4 linked regions of the Homo sapiens genome follow. The protein of the gene in region 2 purifies or fractionates together with the protein of the main gene of each other region. This does not show direct contact. Each region holds a gene or a part of one and is shown on either strand. Other genes may lie near its edges.

Region 1 (5,241 bases), on a different chromosome or scaffold from region 2:
CACCTGTAATCCCAGCTACTTGGGAGGCTGAGGCAGGAGAATCACTTGAACCTGGGAGGCAGAGGTTGCAGTGAACCAAGATCATGCCACTGTACTCCAGTCTGGGCGACAGGGCAAGACTCTGTCTCAAAATAAACAAACAGAAAACAACAACAACAAAAAGAAAACAAGAAATGAAAGAAAAGGGAGGCAGGAGGCAGGGCACAGTGGCTCATGCCTATAATCCCAGAACTTTGGGAGGCCGAGGTGGGTGGATCATGATGTGAGTTCGAGACCAGCCTGGCCAATATGGTGAAACCCAGTCTCTAGTAAAAATACAAAAATTAGCTGGGTGTGGTGGCACACGCCTGTAGCCCCAGCTACTCGGGAGGCAGAGAGAGAATCGCTTGAATCCGGGAGGCGGAGGTTGCAGTGAGCAGAGATCGCACCGCTGCACTCCAGCTTGGGCAACAGAGAGGGAATATCCATCTCAAAAAAAAAAAAAAAAAAAAAAAGAATGAAAGAAAAGGGAAACAACAAAATCAGAAAGGTTGCTCATGACGTTAACAGGACTATGCAGGCCACTATGGAAGAAGTTACTGAGAACTTTTTGGAAGCAATCGAGAGTATTCCCTGCAAACACATCCACAGCCACAACATTAATTAGATTATGAAAATGGTGCAATAGGGTGGCAGAAACATGGAAATCCAAAAGATTAAGTAATGTGGAATTTAGGAAAAATGACAGAGGGAAGAGACTGAAATATAACATCTGTTCTAAACTGAAACTTCTAAGCTTTGATAATGGTTCCTAAAGAGAAAATGACCTTAAAGAATAATCCTTAAAACTTTCAGAGCCTAATGTTTTAAAATCCCAGATACCAGGCATTCTGAATCCATGTTCACCAAGCAACAGACTTTTGGATCCCTTATGTGTACATGTAAATGAATACCATTTGCAAACCACTAGTGAAAGGGAGCAAACCCATTGAAATGACTAAATCTGCATTTTGGCTTACAAATAAAAAATGTTTGTTTGCAGGAAAGAATTAAATCACCAGAACCTGGATAAGTTCAAAGTTCCTTCATCTTCTTCATATTAATAAAGGCCACACCATCCATCCAGTAGCTGAAGACAAGGAATCATTCTAACGTCTCACTCCATCCCGCCAATCGAATCCACTGCAATGTGTGGTCTGCTTTACCTCTGAAATATATCCCAAAATCATACACTTCTCTTCAGATCCACAGTTCAAGCTACTATCATCTTCACTGGGCTACTGCATTAGAGCCTAATTGGGCTCAAATGTTCTATTCATGTCCCTCCTCCATCCTCATACCCCTCCATTCTCTGTATAAGAACTGAATTCTCTTATTAAAATGTAAATAACTTCCGTCTCTCCCTGGCTTAAAATTATCCATCTGTTTCCTTCTGCACTTGGAAAAAACTTCAAGTTCTTTACTACGGCTTAGGAACTATTCCATAATCAGACCCTTGCCTACTATCAGCCCACTCTCTTCCTTAATCATCATGCTTCAGCCATCGGCTCTTCCATTCCTTGAACATGCCAAAACACCAAACTTGTTGTTACTTTAGGGCTTTATTCAACTGCTCTCTTTGTCTGCAATGCTTCCCTCTCAGACGGTCACACATTTGGCTGCTCCCAGTGCCACCCTCCCCTAAGTCTCTGTTGAGAGGCCACCTCTCCAGAGAGGCTTTCCTGACCAGCCAATCTAAAGCAGTCCTCTCCACCTGTCTTAGTCAGGTTGCTATAACAAAATAACAGACTCAGTAATTTATAAATAATAGAAATTTATTTTGCACAGCTCTAGGGGCTGGAAATTCCAAGATCAAGGCACCAGCAGATTTCGCGTCTGGTAAGGGGCTTGTTCTTTGCTTCAATATGGTGCCTTCTTTCTGCATCCTCACTTTGTGGAAGGGGAGTAGAAGGGCCCAACAGGTTCCCTCAAGTCTTTTATTGGTATACTTTATAAGGATACTAATTCTTCTAATCACCTTCTAAAGGCTCCACCTCTTAATACTACACATTGAGGATTAAGTTCAACATGAATTTTGGAGGAAAACATTCAAACCATAGCACCATCCTTCCAACCCAACCCATCCTTCATGTTAACATTTTGTCCTAATTCTCCAATGAGAGAACAGAAACCCTGTCTTGTTCACCACTGTATCCCTCAGGGCCTCAAACAATGTCTAGTGGGTGGAAGAAATGTAAATATTACTTGAATAAATGTGAGAAAAAAATTTCTGTAACTTATAAGGCCAATTATTGGCTCTCATGGGGGAGAAAAAGATGCTATTCATTCAACAGCTATTTAATGAAGGAAGATTGTGCAAAACCTGTGACAGTGGTCCTCAAGCCTCAGCATGTGCATATGAATTACCTAGGAAATTTACACATGAGACCTAAGAAACTGCACTGTGACAAGCAGTCCATAAAAGGCGATTTTCTTATGGAATCAATACTAGCATTCTGCAGTATGTGCCATAGGTCCTAATACTATAAACACTTGCTATGGTCTGAATGTGTCCCTCCAAAATTCATGTTGAAATAATCCCCATTGTGTTGGTATTAAGAGGTGCGTCCTTTTGGGATGTGATTAAGTCATAAGGGTTCCAACCTCATGAATGGATTAGTGTCCTAATAAAAGAGGTTGAAGGGAGCTGCCCTGCCCCTGCTGCCATGTAGGGACACAAATGGTGCCATCTGTAAGGAAGAGGCCCTCACCAGACACTAAAATTGCTGGCACCTTGATCTTGGACTTCTCAGCCTCCAGAATTATGAGCAATAAATTTCTATTATTTATAAGTTATCCAGTCTAAGGTATTTTGTTATAGCAGCTCCAACACACTAAGATAGAATTTTTGTATCATAATGTTATTATTGCAATTCTCTTCTGCTGCTACATTTGTCCTTCACCTTAGCCAAGCCTCTCAGAACCAGTTATTTGCTTCACATACCTAGTACATCTCAAATGTTAGCTAAAATTCCATTCCTGTGGGTAGTTATATCTACATTTAAGCTTTCACAAATAGTTAAGATTTACTGCTGAAATAAACACACGAATACACTATACTCTCTGAGAGCTTTTCCTGTTTTTACCAAATCTTAACTGCTTTCCTCCTCAATTATTCTTGATTTATGAGTCCTGCTGAGAAGTGACACTACACTTGAGCGTGAATTATCTTCCCAGCCACAGGACAAGTGAAGTTAGCTTGATTAACAGACTTTGGCTACTATTATTTGGTTGTGTCCAACAAGAAACCTTTAATACTACATAGACCCTGTACGGAATAGCACTTCTTTCCCAAATCATCAGGGGTCAGCTTCATGTGCTTTTGTGGTAGGGCACACAGTTTGGTTGTAAAGTAATCAATTTTTATTTATTTATATTCTTAAAATGGAATAATGTAATACAGGCTTACTGAAAAAAAAAGCAAATATTACAAAATTGCATTACATATAAATTAAAATTCCCTAATAATCATACCTCTCAAAGTTACTTACTGCTTATACTTTGGTGTATATCCTTCAAATTTGTATGTATAAACATATTTTCACATAGCCTTAAAAGAAATCATCACTGTTGTATAACCTGATTAATTAATTTGACATTATATTACAGGCAGCTTCCCAGGTCAATACCTACGATTCATCTTTTTAAAAAAATTTTTTAAATTATTTATTTATTTATTGAGACAGAGTCTCATTCTGTCACCCAGGCTGGAGTGCAGTGGCGTGATCTCGGCTCTCTGCAACCTCCGCCTCCTAGGTTCAAGCAATTCTCGTGCCTCAGCCTTCTAAGTAGCTGGGACTATAGGTGTGCACCGCCATACCTGGCTAATTTTTGTATTTTTAGTAGAGATGGGGTTTCACCATGTTGGCCAGGCTGGTCTTGAATTCCTGGTCTTGAGTGGTCTGCCCACCTTGGCCTCCCAAAGTGCTGGGATTATAGGCATGAGCCACTGCACCCGGCCAAGATTTACCTTTAACAACTGCATTGTATACTACATAAATATAACAACAAAATTTAAGTAATACTCTGGGAAGAACACATTTTTCTCTCCTACTATACCCTCCCAATAGGTCTGACACCAGATGAGAGTGTTTTCCACACTAAACAATTCTCCAATGGACACCAACGGAGTGTCCTATAATTCAATTCAGTTCTGTCACTATCTCCAGGTAGACAGTGTCTGATCCCACAGGTTAAGAGTTTAGTCTCATAAGCCTGGCCCCACTTCAGACACTAATCACAAGTCCCAGGTTGTGACCTATGATTCCGACTGAATGGTTAGCACAGGGTTCTTACCACCCTCTCTGTGGGTTCAATAATTTGCTAGAATGGCTCACAGAACTCTGGGAAACACTTTACTTACACTTAGTAGTTTATTACAAAGGACATTATGAATGATATAGAACAGCCAGGTGAAGAGACACACAGGGAAAGGTAGAGGGAGAAGGGGTGCAGAGCTGCCACGCCCTCTCTGGGTGCTACCCTCTTAACACTTCCATGTGCTCATCAACCTGGAAGCTCATCAGATTTCTAGTTCAAGAGTTTTTATAGGCCAGGCGCAGCAGCTCACACCTGTAATCCTAGCACTGTGGGAAGCTGAGATGGGAATATTGCTTGAGTCCAGGAGTTCGAGACCAGCCTGGGCAACATAGTAAGACTTCATTTCAAACACAAAAAAATTTAGCAAGGTGTGGTGGAAGGCGCCTGTGGTCCCAGCCACTTGGGACATTGATGTAGGAGGATTGCTTGAGCCCAGGAGGTTGAAGCCTCCAGTGAACTATGATCGCACCTCTGCACTCCAGCCTGGGCAACAGAGCGAGACTTGGCTCAAAACACAAGAAGAAAAAAGCTTTAATGGAGCTTAATCTCCAGCACTTGCCCTCCTCCTTTCCTGGATTTTGGTAGGTGGTGCCAAAAGTTCCAACCCTCTAAAACTCTAATCACTTAGTCTTTTTGGTGACTGGCCCCATCCTTCCTTAGGCTATAGATAGGCCAGATCCTAAAAGTTATCTCATTAGGATGAACTCAGGTGTTATCAAAAGGGGTACATTAAGAATAACAAAAAAATACACTACACTATCAGAAAATTCCAAGGGTTCTAGTGGCTCTGTAACAGGAACCAGGGACAAAGACCAAATAAATTTACTATACTACAAATACCCTGTTTAACATTGTCTAGCTTTCCAAAATTATGAATGATGCTGCAACACATCTATGTATATA
Region 2 (5,241 bases):
TCATAGTAAAGAGTGATTTTACAAAAACAAAAACGTAACAAAAGTAAGTACAGAAAAAATTTAAAAGGAGATACAGCTAAACGTGAATATATGAGATAGGATTTGAACACCAAGGGTAGTGGTGAGGATTAGATAAGACATTTTTTCCCTATTTTTCTGTGGTTTCCAAGTTTGATACCCTGAATAGCTAACACTTTCCTTTCTTTTTATTTTTTATTTTTGAGATGGAGTCTCGCTCTATTGCCCAGGCTGGAGGGCAGTGGCGCAATCTCAGCTCACTGCAACCTCCGCCTCACAGGTTCAAGCGATCCTCTCGCCTCAGCCTCTCGAGAAGCTGGGATTTCAGGCGTGTGTCACCACGCCCAGCTAATTTTTTTGTATTTTTAGTAGAGACAGGGTTTTGCCATGTTGGCCTGGCTGGTCTCACACTCCTGACCTTAGGTGATCCACCTACCTCAGCCTCCCAAAGTGCTGGGATTACAGATATGAGCCACTGCGTCCAGCCCTTAACACTTTCATAACTAACAAAAAAAGTAAAGTTTCAAAAATAAAAGTATAAAGAAAGAAGACGACTATCTTAGAAATCATTTGCAGTTTTACATATAATATACACAGAAGCAAATGGTACTTTTTCAGAAATCAAAAAAACAGAAAAGTCTTACTATTCTACATGATTTAGTGCCTACTTATATGTATCTCTATAATTTGGCAATGAAATAAGACCTTAACTATTCATTAAAGATTTTTCTGGCAGTTATATTAGCCAATCTATAGATTGTGATTATTTTAGTAGGTTTTACTAGCTCTTCAATATCAAGCAAATTTGAAAATTAATTTGTAGGCCATTTTTCTGAAGAGAAAAACATTCATCTAAAAATGGAATATTTAAAAATCAACGTATAATATTTTTACATAGTTTTATTTTTAAATTAAATGGTGGTTCTCTAATAAACAAAAGACCTAAATTTTATTTTAATACTACTAATAACTTAGGCCAACCACGGTGGCTCACGTTTGTAATCCCAGCACTTTGAGAGGCCGAGGCGGGTGGATTGCTTGAGCTCAGGTATTCGAGATCAGCCTGGGTAACATGAGGAAGCCCCATTTCTACAAAAGATATAAAAAAATAGCCCTGCATGGTAGTACACACCTGTAGTCCCAGCTACTTGGGTGGCTAAGGCAGGTGGATCGCTTGAGCCTGGGAGGTCAAGGCTGCACTGAGCCAAGATCATGATACTGCACTCCAGCCTGGGTGAAAAAGGGAGACCCTATCCCAAAAAAAAGCACTAAAACCCTAACTGAAGAAAGACAGATAAAAAAGTGTTTGTTTACTGCAACTATAACATTAAAAAGGACACTTGGGGAAAAGCCATCTTGAGAAACAAGGCTTGAAAAACAAATCATTCCTCAATACAGATGTATCATTTCAGAGAACACAGAATTTTCAAAATAAAATCCACAATCTGGCCGGCCATTGTGGCTCACGCCTGTAATCCCAGAACTTTGGGAGGCCGAGGCGGGCGGATCACGAGGTCAGGAGATGGAGACCATCCTGGCTAACAAGGTGAAACCCCATCTCTACTAAAAACAAAAAAAATTAGCTGGGCTTGGTGGCACGAGCCACCCAGCTACTCAGGAGGCTGAGGCAGGAGAATCGCTTGAACCTGGGAGGCGGAGGTTGCAGTGAGCCAAGATCGTGCCACTGCACTCCAGGCTGGCGGACAGAGCGAGACTCCATCTCAAAAAAATAATAATAAAATAAAAATAAAATCCACAATCTTAATTATTACAGCATTTTACACTTTATACGGTTTTAAGGGTTTAAAGATCCAAAAATTCAATTCATTTATTCTGGAAAGTCAAACTTCAAAAAGACAGGTGGGCAAAACAAATCTTATACTCTTACATCACATCTACTTAAATAATTGGTAATTTGTAAAAACTGAAGAGAAAAGATCAAAAAGTACTCTAACAAACACTGCCTATCAGCCCAACTCTTGCCATTCATTCATACTTCCATCTCAGGTAATTTCTGCCAATGGCCAAAAAAAACCTTAATTCCTTCTCATGGCAATGAGTTAGGCTGGCACCACTGGTTAGATGTTTATTATTATTATTGTTCATGCATGTGTGTGATGGTGTGGCATGATTTAGTTGGGGAGGAGGAGTACTACAAACTAACATAACGCTGAATTTTCTCTCAAGAGAAAAAACCTGCTCTGCTTTCACATTTACATCAGTGCATAATTAGTTGTTTAATTATAGCTTATGATTCAGATAAAGGCCCAGTTTCAGACTCTTTAAATATCATTGATTTTTCGAAGAAATCAAATAATCCATTGAGAAATTAAACTAACTTTTGAAATCATAGGATCATAATAAATGCTAATATCACTTCCTGGTTGGATGCCACTGTCCACTCGGACCTGGGAGAAAAAAAGAAAAAAAGAAAAGTAATTCATATTGTGTAGATATTTTTTTGTAACCACCAATTTCATTTCCATGGAGAAAATGGATAGAGAATTTCAATCTCAAATAACATTTCAACTTCTGGAAAATAGGAAAACAATCTAAAATCTTGATCCGTTAATATGTAATGCAACACATTTTTTGTTCTGCCACTGAATGACGAAACTAAAAAACAGCAAAAATAAAAAATAAAAAATGAAGACTTCCTACATCACTATGCCAGGATGCTGTGGCTCTCTGATGGTGTCTTCCAGCTGAAGCATGGCATGGACGATGCCCTTGCTAACTGCACTCCCTGCCAGACCCTTCTGAGCCCACCAGTGAGGCCCCTCGTCAAGCCTGGTCCTCAGCTCCATAGGAATGTGGGCCTGGGCCTTTCATGTCTGTAACACTTTCCTTTTCTGCCTCACCCTCTCAACTGTAAAACACTATTTTTCTGTTACTGTTGCTCCCCTGAGGCTTTCATGTTTACACAGCTTTTCCTATGGCTTTGCTTTGTAAAGCCCCAATTAGAGTTCTGATTTTGTGATTTTCTTGGGGTGGGGGGTAGGGGGATAGCACAAGTTCAAAATATTCTTTTGAAGAGGCTGATTGCTGTTAACCAGCCAACGAGTGAGTTAGTACATCACTGATTCTTGTTTTCATTTCCCAGTTTGATACCAGCAGCAAGGCACGGAGGTTAGCCATGCAAAACTTTAAAAATGAGCAGTTACTGAGGACAGAACATTTATTAAATTATTAGAAAGAAGTTTTGGAATCTGAAGTATTTAAAAGCTAATCAAAATACTTCAGACTGTCAGGCACATCCTAGGGGTCTTGAGGATGGAGGAACTGAATCAAAGCTGCTGGAACAGCAGGACTTTGATGCCCAACATTGTAAAGGGGTGGGAAGAGAAGAGCGGAAGCTCACGTAGCCTTCCACCTGTGGGAAGAAGCCTTCCTAATAAACAGCAGCTCATCTGTCTGCAGCAAGGCAGAAAAAGGTCAACACAGCGGCTGTTAGGCCTTTAATATTTTAATTTAGGCAATTATCAAGGGACCACATGTAGAACCTCTTGTCTAGGATATCCACATGAGGGTATAATGATGGCTTTATTATACGGTGACATCAGAAGACAAGCGATAGTTTCATTTTCTTAAAATTCACACTACTATTATTCTCTTTGTAAGGTTGTAAAAGGAACACTATAACATACCTGAAGGGCTTTTATTTCTGTATTTGCAAGCACAAACAAAAATATAGATATCTGTATTCGTATTCACATTCATATACAAAAATCTTAATTATAAACAAAAATCATTCAGCACACTTACGAAATATACTTGGCTTTCTATTTTCTGAAAACATATTTCAGGACATAAACTGATGTTCTATGAAATTCACAGTGTTGACAAAAACTAGAAAAAAATTAATGGAGCAGCTTTAAAAGCAATAAAATCACAATCTACCTTTTCCCCACATTAAAGAGCCCCAAAATGGCAACTAGTAAACGGGTTACATAACAGAAAATATATCTGTGAGTTTTCATTTTCTTAATTTTAGTACTAAAAAGTGAAAGAGCTAATTTGACCACTATGTCATCTTTAAAACCACAGCATGCTTGCTAATGCTGTGTTTACAAACGAGACTGATACAAGTTCTAAAACTTCTGACTTTAACTACATCCTATCATTTGCTACATAAACTGCTACAAAGCTAGGAAGAACTTAGATGTTCAACCCACAAATAAAATAACATAGACAATAAAGAATATTTATTATGTTCTTCTACAGTTCCTTACTTAAAACTTCAGTTGCCTTGAATAATATCATCCTATAAGGTGTTACCTACAGATCTTAATTAAATATAACTGTCTTTGTTATTTACTAATATTATGATCACAGAAGTTATGTCATCTTAACTTTAAAATACATACGATAAAATCAAGATATATATAAACACGTATCTTTGTATAAGCAAATCAGTATTCCCAATTAAAAACTGTACCACAGTATGAAAACTCTGCTTTATAATTTACTATTTATGCTGCTTTTTCCAAGTAATAATCAGCTATATTTTTATTTCTTAACAACCAATCTGAAGTCAGATCAAGTCTCCATTCCTTCAATGAAAGGCTATACAAATTTGCACTAAAAACTTTAAGAAAAAATTCAAATGAAATCAGAACCAAATTTCTGAGCAGAACAAAACTGTGGTCTGAAAATAACAAATTTACAAAACATGATGATCAAAAATAAAAAAGGAAATCTTCACCTCTGCCATATTAATAAATCTCAGGCTTAATGAAGCATGTGAAAAGTACAAACCATAAGTTAACTCTTAAGTATGCATTCTTGTGACCAAAAAAGGTAAGAGCCAAAAATTGTTTTCTAAGGTAAACTGACTGCTCTAGTTTTAATAAGACAAGGAAGAAAAACAAACAATAACAACCACAACAAAACACCCAAGCACCTCTGTACGAGATTCTCAAACCACTGCTCAGAAACCTCTAGCATAATTAAAATTTCTGTCTTCAGTACCACAGTGGACTCTGTGAAACTATCAGACATCTCCCACCCTTCATTCTCAATTCACCTCTCCCCCTAAGCACAACTCCCAGCCCGCCATGTCTACCTGACAAGTGACAGCCCAATCTGATTAAATGCTTCCAAGGGAGGGGACTCATGGGCCTCCATGACAGGCCAAAAGTGATCACCATGGAGATACATAATTACAGCTGTCAACGCATCTACTGTCCTGCTGACATCAATTTGATTGCTCCCAGCAATAAT
Region 3 (5,241 bases), on a different chromosome or scaffold from region 2:
AACAGTGGGAGGATGGCAAAAGCTTATCGCCTGTAGTCCCAGCTACTAGGGAGGCTGAGGCAGGAGAATGGCGTGAACCCGGGAGGCGGAGCTTGCAGTGAGTTGAGATTGCGCCACTGCACTCCAGCCTGGGCGACAGAGCGAGACTCCATCTCAAAAAAAAAAAAAAATTTGACCACAAAACCACTGTCATAAAAATAACATGGTGTTAGCACAGCAGTAGACAAATAGAGCCCATTGGTAGAATGCAATAGAAAGCCCAGAAATAAATCCAAGCTTGTATATATGGAAACTGAATATGTGACAAACGTGGCATTTCGAATCACTGCAGAAAAGGTGATTATTTAATAAATGATGCTGGCAGGCCGGGCGCAGTGGCTCATGCCTGTAATCTCAGCACTTTGGGAGGCTGAAGTGGGTGGATCACCTGAGGTCATAAGTTCGACACCAACCTGGCCAACATGGCAAAACCTCATCTCTACTAAAAATACAAAAATTAGCTAGGCATGGTGGCGGGCACCTGTAATCCCAGCTATTTGGGAGGCTGAGTCAGGAGAATTGCTTGAACCCAGGAGACGGCGGCTGCAGTGAGCTGAGATTGTGCAACTGCACTCCTGCCTGGGCGATAAGAGTAAAACTTCGTCTCAAAAAAAAAAATTAAATTAAAAAAAATGATGCTGGCATAATTGACTATCTTGATTTTTTTAAAGCTAGGTCTGCTTATCACAATGCTGACAGAGAAAAGATTTATATGTAAAAAAGAAAACAATAAGCATAGTAGAAGAAAATATAGAATATTTGTATAAGCTTATGGATGGGGAACATGTTCCAAAGTAATAGGAGAAACTCAGCCAGGCACAGTGGCTCATGCCTGTAATCCCACCACTTTGGGAGGCCCAGGCAGGTGGATCACTTGAGATCAGGAATTCGATACCAGCCTGACCAACATGGTGAAACTCCATCTCTACTAAAAATACAAAAGTAGCCAGGTGTAGTGGCACATGCCTGTAATCCCAGCTACTTGGGAGGCTGAGGCAGGAGAATCACTTGAACCCAGGAGGCGGAGGTTGCAGTGAGCCGAGATCGCGCCATCGCACTCCAGCCTGGGCAATGAGAGTGAAACTCTGTCCCTCCACCTGCAATAAAAAGGAGAAACTCAGAAATCATAAAGAAAAAGATAGATATCTGTGTAGGCGTGCAATCAAATGTTTAATTTTGATAGGACAAAACAGATCCATCCCGTAAGCAAAGCCAAAAAACAAAAGATCAACTGGGAAAAATATTTGCAGTACCTATGATAGAAAGGAGGTTGGGGGCTGGGCACGGTGGCTCCCGCCTGTAATCCAAACACTTTGAGAGGCCGAGGTGGGTGGATCACTTGAGGTCAGAAGTTCGAGACCAGCCTGGCCAACATGGCAAAACCATGTCTCTACAAAAAATACAAAAATTAGCTGGGCATGGTGGTGCACACCTGTAGTCCCAGCTACTTGAAAGCCTGAGGCAGGAGGAGAGCTTGAGGTCAAGGCTGCAGTGGGCCATATTTGCGTCACTGCATTCCAGCCTTGGTGACAAAGAGAGTCTCAAAAAGAAAAAAGATTCATATCGGAAAAGTACAAATTGGTCAAAGGTCTAGGCTTTGTAATCTCCCAACTGTAGAGGTGACAGAAACTGGCTTTTTCCCAGAAAGAGGGACTGGGCCATCCAAACAGTCCCAACATGTCTGTTGCTTTCACAGCCATGAAAATGATCATGAGAATGCCATTAATATGTCTAATGATAGCTCCATATATTGGACACTTACATATTAATGTGTAGAATACCTTATGTTAAACACATACCGTTTATGTGTACAGACACGCAAATATGAATATACTCACATATGTGGATAAATGTGTGTGTAGGGAGTGTAAATAAGTAAAGGACATGCAAAGTTACACATCAAACCGATTCCCTCGGGGCAAAAAGGGTAGGGTAGGGGATTGAGATTAGGCATAGCGTTCCCAGGAGACTTCAGCATTATTTAAAATGCTTTTATTTTTAATAAGAATGTATTTACTGGGTAATGAAAGATTAGTTTCTCTTAAAAATATGACTCCAATCAAATTCCCGTCAGGATTTTAATGGAATAATAAGCTGATTTATTAAATAAAAAGAACAGTAAGTGAACAAGAATATTCAAGAAAATTTTTTAAAAAGGAAAACATGAAAACATATCATAAAACTATAATGATTAAGGCTGGGTGCGGTGGCTCTTGCTTGTAATCCCAGCACTTTGGGAGGCTGAGGCGGGCAGACTGCTTGAGTCCAGGAGTTCAAGACCAGCCTGGGCAACACGGCGAAACCCTGTCTCTACAAAAAATACAAAAATTAGCTGGGCATGGGGGCATGTGCCTATAGGCCCAGCTACTCAGGAGGCTGACGTGGGACAATTGCTTGAGCCTGGGAGGTGGAGGCTGCAGTGAGCTGAGATTGGGCCACTGCACTCCAGCAAGGATGACAGAGTGAGACCCTGTCTCAAAAAAAAAACAAAAAAAAAACCCTCAAAACCAAACAAACAAACAGAAAACAAACTACTACAATGATTAAAACAACATAGAATTGGCTTATAATTTAATAAATAGATCAACGTAAGAGAATCAGGAATTCAGAAACAGACCGATGTTGTGCAGGAATTTGGTAAATAAGACAGAGGGCTTTTTTTTTTTTTTTTTTGAGATGGAGTCTAGTTCTGTCACTCAGGCTGGAGTGCGGTGGCACGAGCTCGGATCATTGCAACCTCCGCCTCCCAGGCTCAAGCAATTCTCCTGCCTCAGTCTCCCGAGTAGCTGGGATTACAGGCGCCTACCACCACGCCCGGCTAATTTCTGTATTTTTAGTAGAGACAGGGTTTCGCCATGTTTGGCCAGGCTGGTCTCGAACTCCTGACCTCAGGTGATCCACCCGCCTCGGCCTCCCAAAGTGCTGGGATTACAGGCGTGAGCCACGGCGCCTGGCCTAAAAAGATAACCTTTTAAAGATGTATTCCTGCCAGACTACTGGGTGTCTTTCTGTCTGTCTCTCTGCTTTACTGGCATTCGTCCCAGTTCTCATGCACTTGGGGTTTTCTCCACATGTTTCGTAGCCATGCAGATTTGATTTTTTTCCTGAAATAGTGCTACTGTGTCTCTTTAACAGGTGAGGAAAACAAGGCCCAGGGAATTAAGTGACTGACATAAGCACATATGGCTACTCAGTGGCAGAGGTTCCTGTGTGTCTGGCTACCTGGCTTTTCCTATTTGGCTTCCTGCCCATCTCTGTCACTATCTTTCCCTCTGACTCTTGTTTCTCTCTCTCCTCTGTCTCTCTTTTGCAAAGCTGCCAATTTTAACAAGTCCAAAATGTTGTAGAGTTAAATGGTTAAGAACAAGGACTCTGGAGCCAGTTCAGCCACTGCCTGAGTTCAAATCTTGCTCTTCAACTTACTGTCTGTATAACTGGGACGAGTCCTGTCACCTCTCTGAGCCTCAGTTTCCTCATCTATAATATGGGGAAAATGATTGTCCCTACTCTATAGGATTATTTTGACAATTCAGTGAAAAAATATTATGTGCACAGAATGGCCCTAAGTGTTCACTACACATTAGCTAGTTATATGTTATTATGACATCAATAAAGTGCTCGACTCATCCCAAATGGGCACATGAGTTTCCTGAGGCTGGGAACCACATCTTCCACTCCACAACTATTTAAAACAATTTTGAACCTACAATAAAGTTAAAAGAATACACTGAACACCCATACATACTTCATCTAGATCCTCTATTAACATTTTTTTGGGCCACATTTGCTTTATCTCACTCTCTCTGTATATAAACACATTATTTTTGCCAACTTATTTGCAGACATCATGACATTTTACCCCTTCATACTTAACTGTGTCTTTCCCAAGAACAAGGATATTTTCCTTCAATAGATATGATACCACTACCACACTGCTATGGTTTGAATGTGTCCTTCCAAATTCATGTGTTGCAATTTAATTACCAATGTGATCATATTAAGAGGTGGGGGCCTTTAAGAGGTGATTAAGTCCTGAGGGTAGAGCTCTCACAGATGGGATTAGGGCTCTTTTTTTATTTTTTATTTTATTTATTTTTTGAGATGGAGTCTTGCTCTGTTGCCCAGGCTGGAGTGCAGTGGTGCGATCTTGGCTCACTGCAAGCTCCGCCTCCCGGGTTCATGCCATTCTCCTGCCTCAGCCTCCCGAGTAGCTGGGACTACAGGCACCCGCCACCACGCCCGGCTATTTTTTTGTATTTTTAGTAAAGACAGGGTTTCACCGTGTTAGCCAGGGTGGTCTCGATCTCCTGACCTTGTGATCTGCCCGCCTCGGCCTCCTAAACTGCTGGGATTACAGGCGTGAGCCACCGTGCTCAGCCTCTTTTTTTTTTTTTTTTTGAGATGAAGTCTCGCTCTGTCACCCAGGCTGGAGTGCAGTGGCAAGATCTTGGCTCACTGCAACCTCTGCTTTTCGGGTTCAAGCGATTCTCATGCCTCAGCCTCCCGAGTAGCTGGGATTATAGGCATGTGCCACTACACCCGGCTAATTTTTGTATTTTTTTTAGTAGAGACAGGGTTTCACCATGTTGGCCAGGATGGTCTCGAACTCCTGACTTCAGGTGATCCGCCTGCCTCAGCCTCCCAAAGTGCTGGGACTACAGGCATGAGCCACCGTGCCCAGCGGATTTGGGCTCTTATAAAGAGGTTGAGGGTGTGGGTTCACTCTCTTCTGCTCTTCTGTCATGTGAGGATGCAGCAAGAAAGCCCTCACTAGACACACAACCTGCCAGCACCTTGATCTTGGACTTCCCAGTCTCCAAAACTGTGAGAAATAAATTTCTCTTCTTTACAAATTCCTCAGTCTGTGGTATTCTGTTATAGTAGCACAAAACGACTAAGACACACACCCAGGAAATTTAATACTGATACAATTATCTAATGTATGGTCTGTAATCAAATTTTGAGACCACGTCCTAATTTATCTGTGTGCTCGCAGGGACCAGAATAGGCAAGAGTGGAAGAACAAAGATGAGAAGAGAAAAAGTGGCTGAGAGGTCAAGGGAACAAATGAATGAGTGAGCAAGAATACAAACAAATGAATATGGGTGCAGAATGACTGAATGAATAAACACAACTAGCATTATTATAATACGCATTGTTATATTTAGGTATTATAACTGAAATACATAATGCTAAAGCTAT
Region 4 (5,241 bases), on a different chromosome or scaffold from region 2:
CTGTGGAAGCAGGTGGCCCAGAACCTGGACCGGTTCCACACCTTCCCACGCCTGGCTGGAGGTAAGGCCTGCCTCACCTCCTCCTCCCGTGTGGCCCCAGGGACCCCTCCCCTGGCCATTATGAAAGAGGAGGGAGGTAGAGGGGATCCAGCCACAAGTCAGGTGGATGAACCATTTCAGGCACCAGCACTGCCCAGTAGAACTTTTTGTGATGAGGGATGCGTCCAGTACCTTCACTCTCCAATATGCAGCCACCAGCCACACATGGCCATGGAGCCCTTGAAGGGTGGCCTGTGCGACTGAGGAACTGCATTATCTAGTTTTCTTTCATTTTAATTAAGTTAAATCTTAGTAGCCAGTCGTGGCTGGTGGCTGCCGTGTCGGGCATTGCAGCTGTAAGCGGAGGCAAGTGCAAATGCAGAGACCAGAAGTGGGAATGAACTTGTATTTGAAGAAACAAAGCAAGGCCCATGAGTAGGGAGGGAGGAGGGCTGGTAGGAGAAGACGGGCTGAGACGTAGGCAGGGCTGGACCTTGTTGGCATATTAAAGTTTTCCCACAAAGAAACAGTTTCATGGTCAAGGAAATTTGGCATGTGTGGTGTTAAAGCAAAATGGACTCCTCCCGTGCAGAACTTCTCAGAGCCTTGAATGCTCTAATACGCATGGCACATCTTCAAGGACAAGGTCTGCCATGTAGTGTTTCCCACACGCATTGGGCCATGGAACCCCGTTTCTGCAAAGACCCCCATGGACCAAGTGTTTTGTGGAGCACATTTTGGGAATGTGCTGAGGCCTAGAGGGAGGGAGAGTTGCAGCCAGCACGTGACCAGCAGAGCTGGGACCGGTGGTCCAGCATGTTTCTCTGTGGCGTGAATTGGGGCCCACTGGGGAGTCTGGACCCTGTTCCTGGACTGGTGGGAGTTCGGATGGGGGTGTCAGGGAAGGTGAGCGCTCCTCAGGGTCAGCTGTGTGGCTTTCTGCTCTCAGAGCCTCCTTCCCTGCCTCCCTGAGGGAGAGAGGCCGCTGGTTACCACTTTCCAACCTGGAGCAGGTGACTTCATCTCTCTGTGCCTCAGTTTTCTTGGCTTGAAATTGGGGATAGTAATGGGAGGTTGTTGTGAGGCTTTGGTCAGACAAAGCACAGCGTACTTCGTCCAGAGTTGGGCAGCTGTTAAGTGCTTTCAGCTGCTGTTAGCTGCTGCTTCCCACGGAGGGAGGAAACTGAGGCCGGGAGAGTGAAGTGACCTGTCTGAAGCTCCCTCCCACTGGGGAAATGGGGGAGCGGTTTCCAGCACGCGTGGGGAGGAGGGGCCCAACCCTGGCAGCCGACATAGGGTAGGCTCCAATGTCCCTCGTGGACGAGGGCTCAGGAGAACCTCACAAAAAGCTGTGCCCACTTCTGGGAATGGCTGGCTCTCGGGGGCCTTGGGTTCTCATCTGTCCTCTGCTGTTGTGTTGGGTAGTTTCAGTTTTCCCATCAGTGTAATGGGGCTGTTGGACCTGATCACCTCTGATGCCCTTCACCCCTCCCTGGGCCTCAGTTTCCTCATCTGTGGAGTGGGAGAATGGGCCTGGCCCGTGGGTCTCTGGGATGTTGGCCAGCGCTCACTCTGAGCCTCCGCCCGCTCTGGGCTGCTCCGTGCTCGTGTTGGTCCCGGGCCATGGATGGCGTAGGTGGTGTTTTGGGCCCCTGGGCAACCGGGGGAGCCAGCTCCTCTGGTCATTTCCCCACCCCCGACCCCTGTAGAGTGCGGCGGAAAGAACTTCCACTTCGTGCACCGCTCGGCCGACGTGGAGAGCGTGGTGAGCGGGACCCTCCGCTCAGCCTTCGAGTACGGTGGCCAGAAGTGTTCCGCGTGCTCGCGTCTCTACGTGCCGCACTCGCTGTGGCCGCAGATCAAAGGGCGGCTGCTGGAGGAGCACAGTCGGATCAAAGTGGGCGACGTGAGTGGCACCGTCACCCCCGCCGCGGCCCAGCGGGGGGCTGATGGGATTGGGTCCCTGGGAGGCTCCTCTGCAGCCGGGGCTGGGGTGTGCGGGGAGGGGTCTCCCTTGGTCTCGGCCTGCAGTGACTCGTCTCTTCTGGCGCCTCCCTTGCCTCCAGCCTGCAGAGGATTTTGGGACCTTCTTCTCTGCAGTGATTGATGCCAAGGTACGGGGTGGGAAGTGGGCGTTCCTGGGTGGGGGCAAGCCCTGGAGTGGGTGGAAGAGGGAGGAAGAGATACAGGGTACCCTGACCCAGGGCATGACCCAGCCCCACTGCTTTGATCAAGGCAGCTCAGCAGCCACACACGCACCTCCAGCTTCAGAAAGGGCAGAATCAGCCGTAGCCAGACAAGAGCTCATCTTGCGGCCACCCTGGAACCAGGCTCAGCGAGCTCCTAATAGCATTTGCATGAGTGCATGTACACGTGTGTTTGTGAATGTGTTCATATAGGGCTCCGTGTGGCTCCACATGTAGGTCTTTCCATATAAACACGTACATATCCATTTGCACATAAGCACACACACGCATATGTCGATAAGTCCACCCACACGCATGTACATGGAGAAGGCATGCAGATCCCTACATGCTTAGACATGTGACCATGCATATGCCTATATATGCATTGATTGATGTGTGTCTGTGTTTATATGCGAGTGCACCTGTAGTACTAACACACGTACACTTGTGTGTGTACACACACACACACACACAGTGTTCATGTCTGTCCTTGTCTCTGCTGTGGCTCAGCCAGACCCTGGCTTTTGCCCTTGGCGTCCCCTACCCCTGCCCCTGTTTCAGGAGTTGGGCCCTTCAGGTGCAGGTGTTTCGGGGTGAGTGTGTTGTGGGGGCTGCCGCAGGGATGCCTTCCCAGCCTCTTAGACCTCCCTCCTCCCTGCCCACCCCAGTCCTTTGCCCGTATCAAGAAGTGGCTGGAGCACGCACGCTCCTCACCCAGCCTCACCATCCTGGCCGGGGGCAAGTGTGATGACTCCGTGGGCTACTTTGTGGAGCCCTGCATCGTGGAGAGCAAGGACCCTCAGGAGCCCATCATGAAGGAGGTGACTGGGGTGGGCAGCCTGGGGTCCAGAGGAGGACAATCCCACCGGAGCACAGCACACACACAGTTCTCCTGGAGACATTCTCCCATTTCACAGATGAGGCCCTAAAGGGAGACCCTAAAAGGGAATGCCTCCGACCGGGAGAGAGTAGAGCCAGGTTTTGAGCTCAGGCTGCCTAACTCCAAATCCGGGGCTGTGTCCTTGACCCTGGCTGGGGTCTGAGCATTTCCAGTGCCCTCAGCAACCACGTCCACTGCAGCCATCATAATGGCTGACACTGATAGACTTTTACTGTGGGGCCAGCTGTGGCTGAGCACTTGGCTGAGATGACGTGGGTGTTACTGTTCCCATTTTACAGATGAGAAACTGAGGTCAAGGCACTTGCCCAAGTTGGTAGTGCAGGGCTGGAGTGTGCCTGAGAAGATCTTCCCCCCAGCCCCTTGGTGGCAGAGGGAACCATGAACCCTTCTGGAGGGAATGGTATCTCTGGGCAACTCTCATGCCAGCTGCTGCTGGAAGCCTCTGGGACCTGGACCCTTAGTTCTCCGGGTGTGGGTTTGGCAGGGAGAGCCAGAAAATGTTTGCATCTTTTGCCGGCTTGTGGTGGGATGGACAGGACAGGGAGCTGGGCACGTTGCTGTCCTGGAGGGAACCCAGGAGGAGGCGACACCTGACCCTTCTTGCAGACACTGAAGTGTAAACTGAGGCCCAGGGACTGGGGAGAGGGTGAGCCAGAGCAGGGGCACTGGGAGGGCTCAGGGCCCTGGTCCCTGGTCCCGTGGAGGGTCTGACGCCGGGGCCTCTCTCCTAGGAGATCTTCGGGCCTGTACTGTCTGTGTACGTCTACCCGGATGACAAGTACAAGGAGACGCTGCAGCTGGTTGACAGCACCACCAGCTATGGCCTCACGGGGGCAGTGTTCTCCCAGGATAAGTGAGTGGCCAGGCCGCAGCCCTGGTGCTGTGCTCCGGGTGTCCTGTCCGTGTCCCCATCCCCACCTCCTGGACGTGGTTCCCAGTAATAATGCTGCCCCTACCTTCTCTCTGTCCCCTCCCCTCAGCCCAGACAGGCAGCCAGGGCTCGCCACATGGGCCCACAGCAGCAGGCTCTTTGTTGCCGGTACTGGTGGTGCCGGTGCCAGGGTGCCACTGGGGACCAGTGGATCTGAACCTCTAGGGGCAGGGCTAGGAATTGGTGTCTTCGACTGGCTCTGCGGGATCTGGTGTTGCCCCACTGAGTGAGGTGATTGTCCCATGCTACAAAGCAGGGCAGGCCAGGGGCTGCAGAGGCAGGATTCGAACCTGGGTCACATGAGGCTAAACTTGAGGCTTCGCCTCTTCTTTCCTCCGTGGCACTGGTTGCCCCCATGTCTGCCTCTATGAGAAAGTGGAGGTGAGCTTGGAGAGGGAGGAAGGGTGTGGGCCTGGGAGCTGGAGTTTCCGCTGCTCCTGAGGGACAGGAACATTGGACCAGGACAGGCCACTCCCTTCAACTTCGCAGTAGCCCTGTAACGAGGCGTGCCAAGCCCCTCCCCAGAGGAGGAAGCTGGGCTCAGAGACTGGGTAACCTGACCGAAGGCCCACAGCCAACAGCTGGCAGCATCCCTCATCCCTGACTCGGCCTCCTGTTGAACCTGGAAAGCCAGTGTGGGCTGGAGCAGGGGTGTTGAGGCTGGAGCTGGGGCTGGAGGGGAGATGAGCTGGTTGCTCTGTCACCACTGCTCTGCTTTGTAGGGACGTCGTGCAGGAGGCCACAAAGGTGCTGAGGAATGCTGCCGGCAACTTCTACATCAACGACAAGTCCACTGGCTCGATAGTGGGCCAGCAGCCCTTTGGGGGGGCCCGAGCCTCTGGTGAGTGGGTCCCCCTTCCCACAGGGGAGCTGAGTTCCTGGTGGGAGACCCTAGATGTTACGTCTCGAGGGGCTTCAGAGTAATAGGAAGGATACCATTTACTGAGCACTTATTGTGGGCCAAGCAAGTGCACTAGCTCAGGGTCCTTTCAGCAAACTCGTGAGCAAAGGGACTATTCTTCCCATTTTACAGAGGAGGAAACTGAGGCTCAAGGCCACATGACCCTGGTGGGATTGTAATTTTGGCTCCAGCAGCCGCACTTTCTGCACCATAGCCAGTGTCCCTTAAGTCCAACAACCTCTACTTCACAATGGGGAACTGAGGCTCAGGAGGAGCAATGGCT

What was found.
Region 1: the proteins of PCCA (region 2) and TTC1 purify together in Homo sapiens (affinity purification with mass spectrometry; 2 studies listed by BioGRID and IntAct, with this or other methods). This does not show direct contact.
Region 3: the proteins of PCCA (region 2) and TBC1D25 purify together in Homo sapiens (affinity purification with mass spectrometry; one large-scale study listed by BioGRID and IntAct). This does not show direct contact.
Region 4: the proteins of PCCA (region 2) and ALDH4A1 purify together in Homo sapiens (co-immunoprecipitation; one large-scale study listed by IntAct). This does not show direct contact.

The regions. Positions count from the first base shown.
Region 1 is NC_000005.10:160,014,834-160,020,074, reverse strand, and holds part of TTC1 (tetratricopeptide repeat protein 1), read right to left. Parts: exon of another isoform or gene 1,044-5,241; intron 1-1,043.
Region 2 is NC_000013.11:100,304,377-100,309,617, reverse strand, and holds part of PCCA (propionyl-CoA carboxylase alpha chain, mitochondrial isoform a precursor), read right to left. Parts: intron 3,868-5,241; exon of another isoform or gene 3,784-3,867; intron 2,427-3,783; coding exon 2,358-2,426; intron 1-2,357. UniProt on the Homo sapiens protein: This is one of the 2 subunits of the biotin-dependent propionyl-CoA carboxylase (PCC), a mitochondrial enzyme involved in the catabolism of odd chain fatty acids, branched-chain amino acids isoleucine, threonine, methionine, and valine and other metabolites.
Region 3 is NC_000023.11:48,545,409-48,550,649, reverse strand, and holds part of TBC1D25 (TBC1 domain family member 25), read right to left. Parts: intron 1,137-5,241; exon of another isoform or gene 1,006-1,136; intron 1-1,005. UniProt on the Homo sapiens protein: Acts as a GTPase-activating protein specific for RAB33B. Involved in the regulation of autophagosome maturation, the process in which autophagosomes fuse with endosomes and lysosomes.
Region 4 is NC_000001.11:18,874,120-18,879,360, reverse strand, and holds part of ALDH4A1 (delta-1-pyrroline-5-carboxylate dehydrogenase, mitochondrial isoform a precursor), read left to right. Parts: coding exon 1-61; intron 62-1,748; coding exon 1,749-1,945; intron 1,946-2,105; coding exon 2,106-2,153; intron 2,154-2,893; coding exon 2,894-3,046; intron 3,047-3,857; coding exon 3,858-3,979; intron 3,980-4,779; coding exon 4,780-4,898; intron 4,899-5,241. UniProt on the Homo sapiens protein: Irreversible conversion of delta-1-pyrroline-5-carboxylate (P5C), derived either from proline or ornithine, to glutamate. This is a necessary step in the pathway interconnecting the urea and tricarboxylic acid cycles.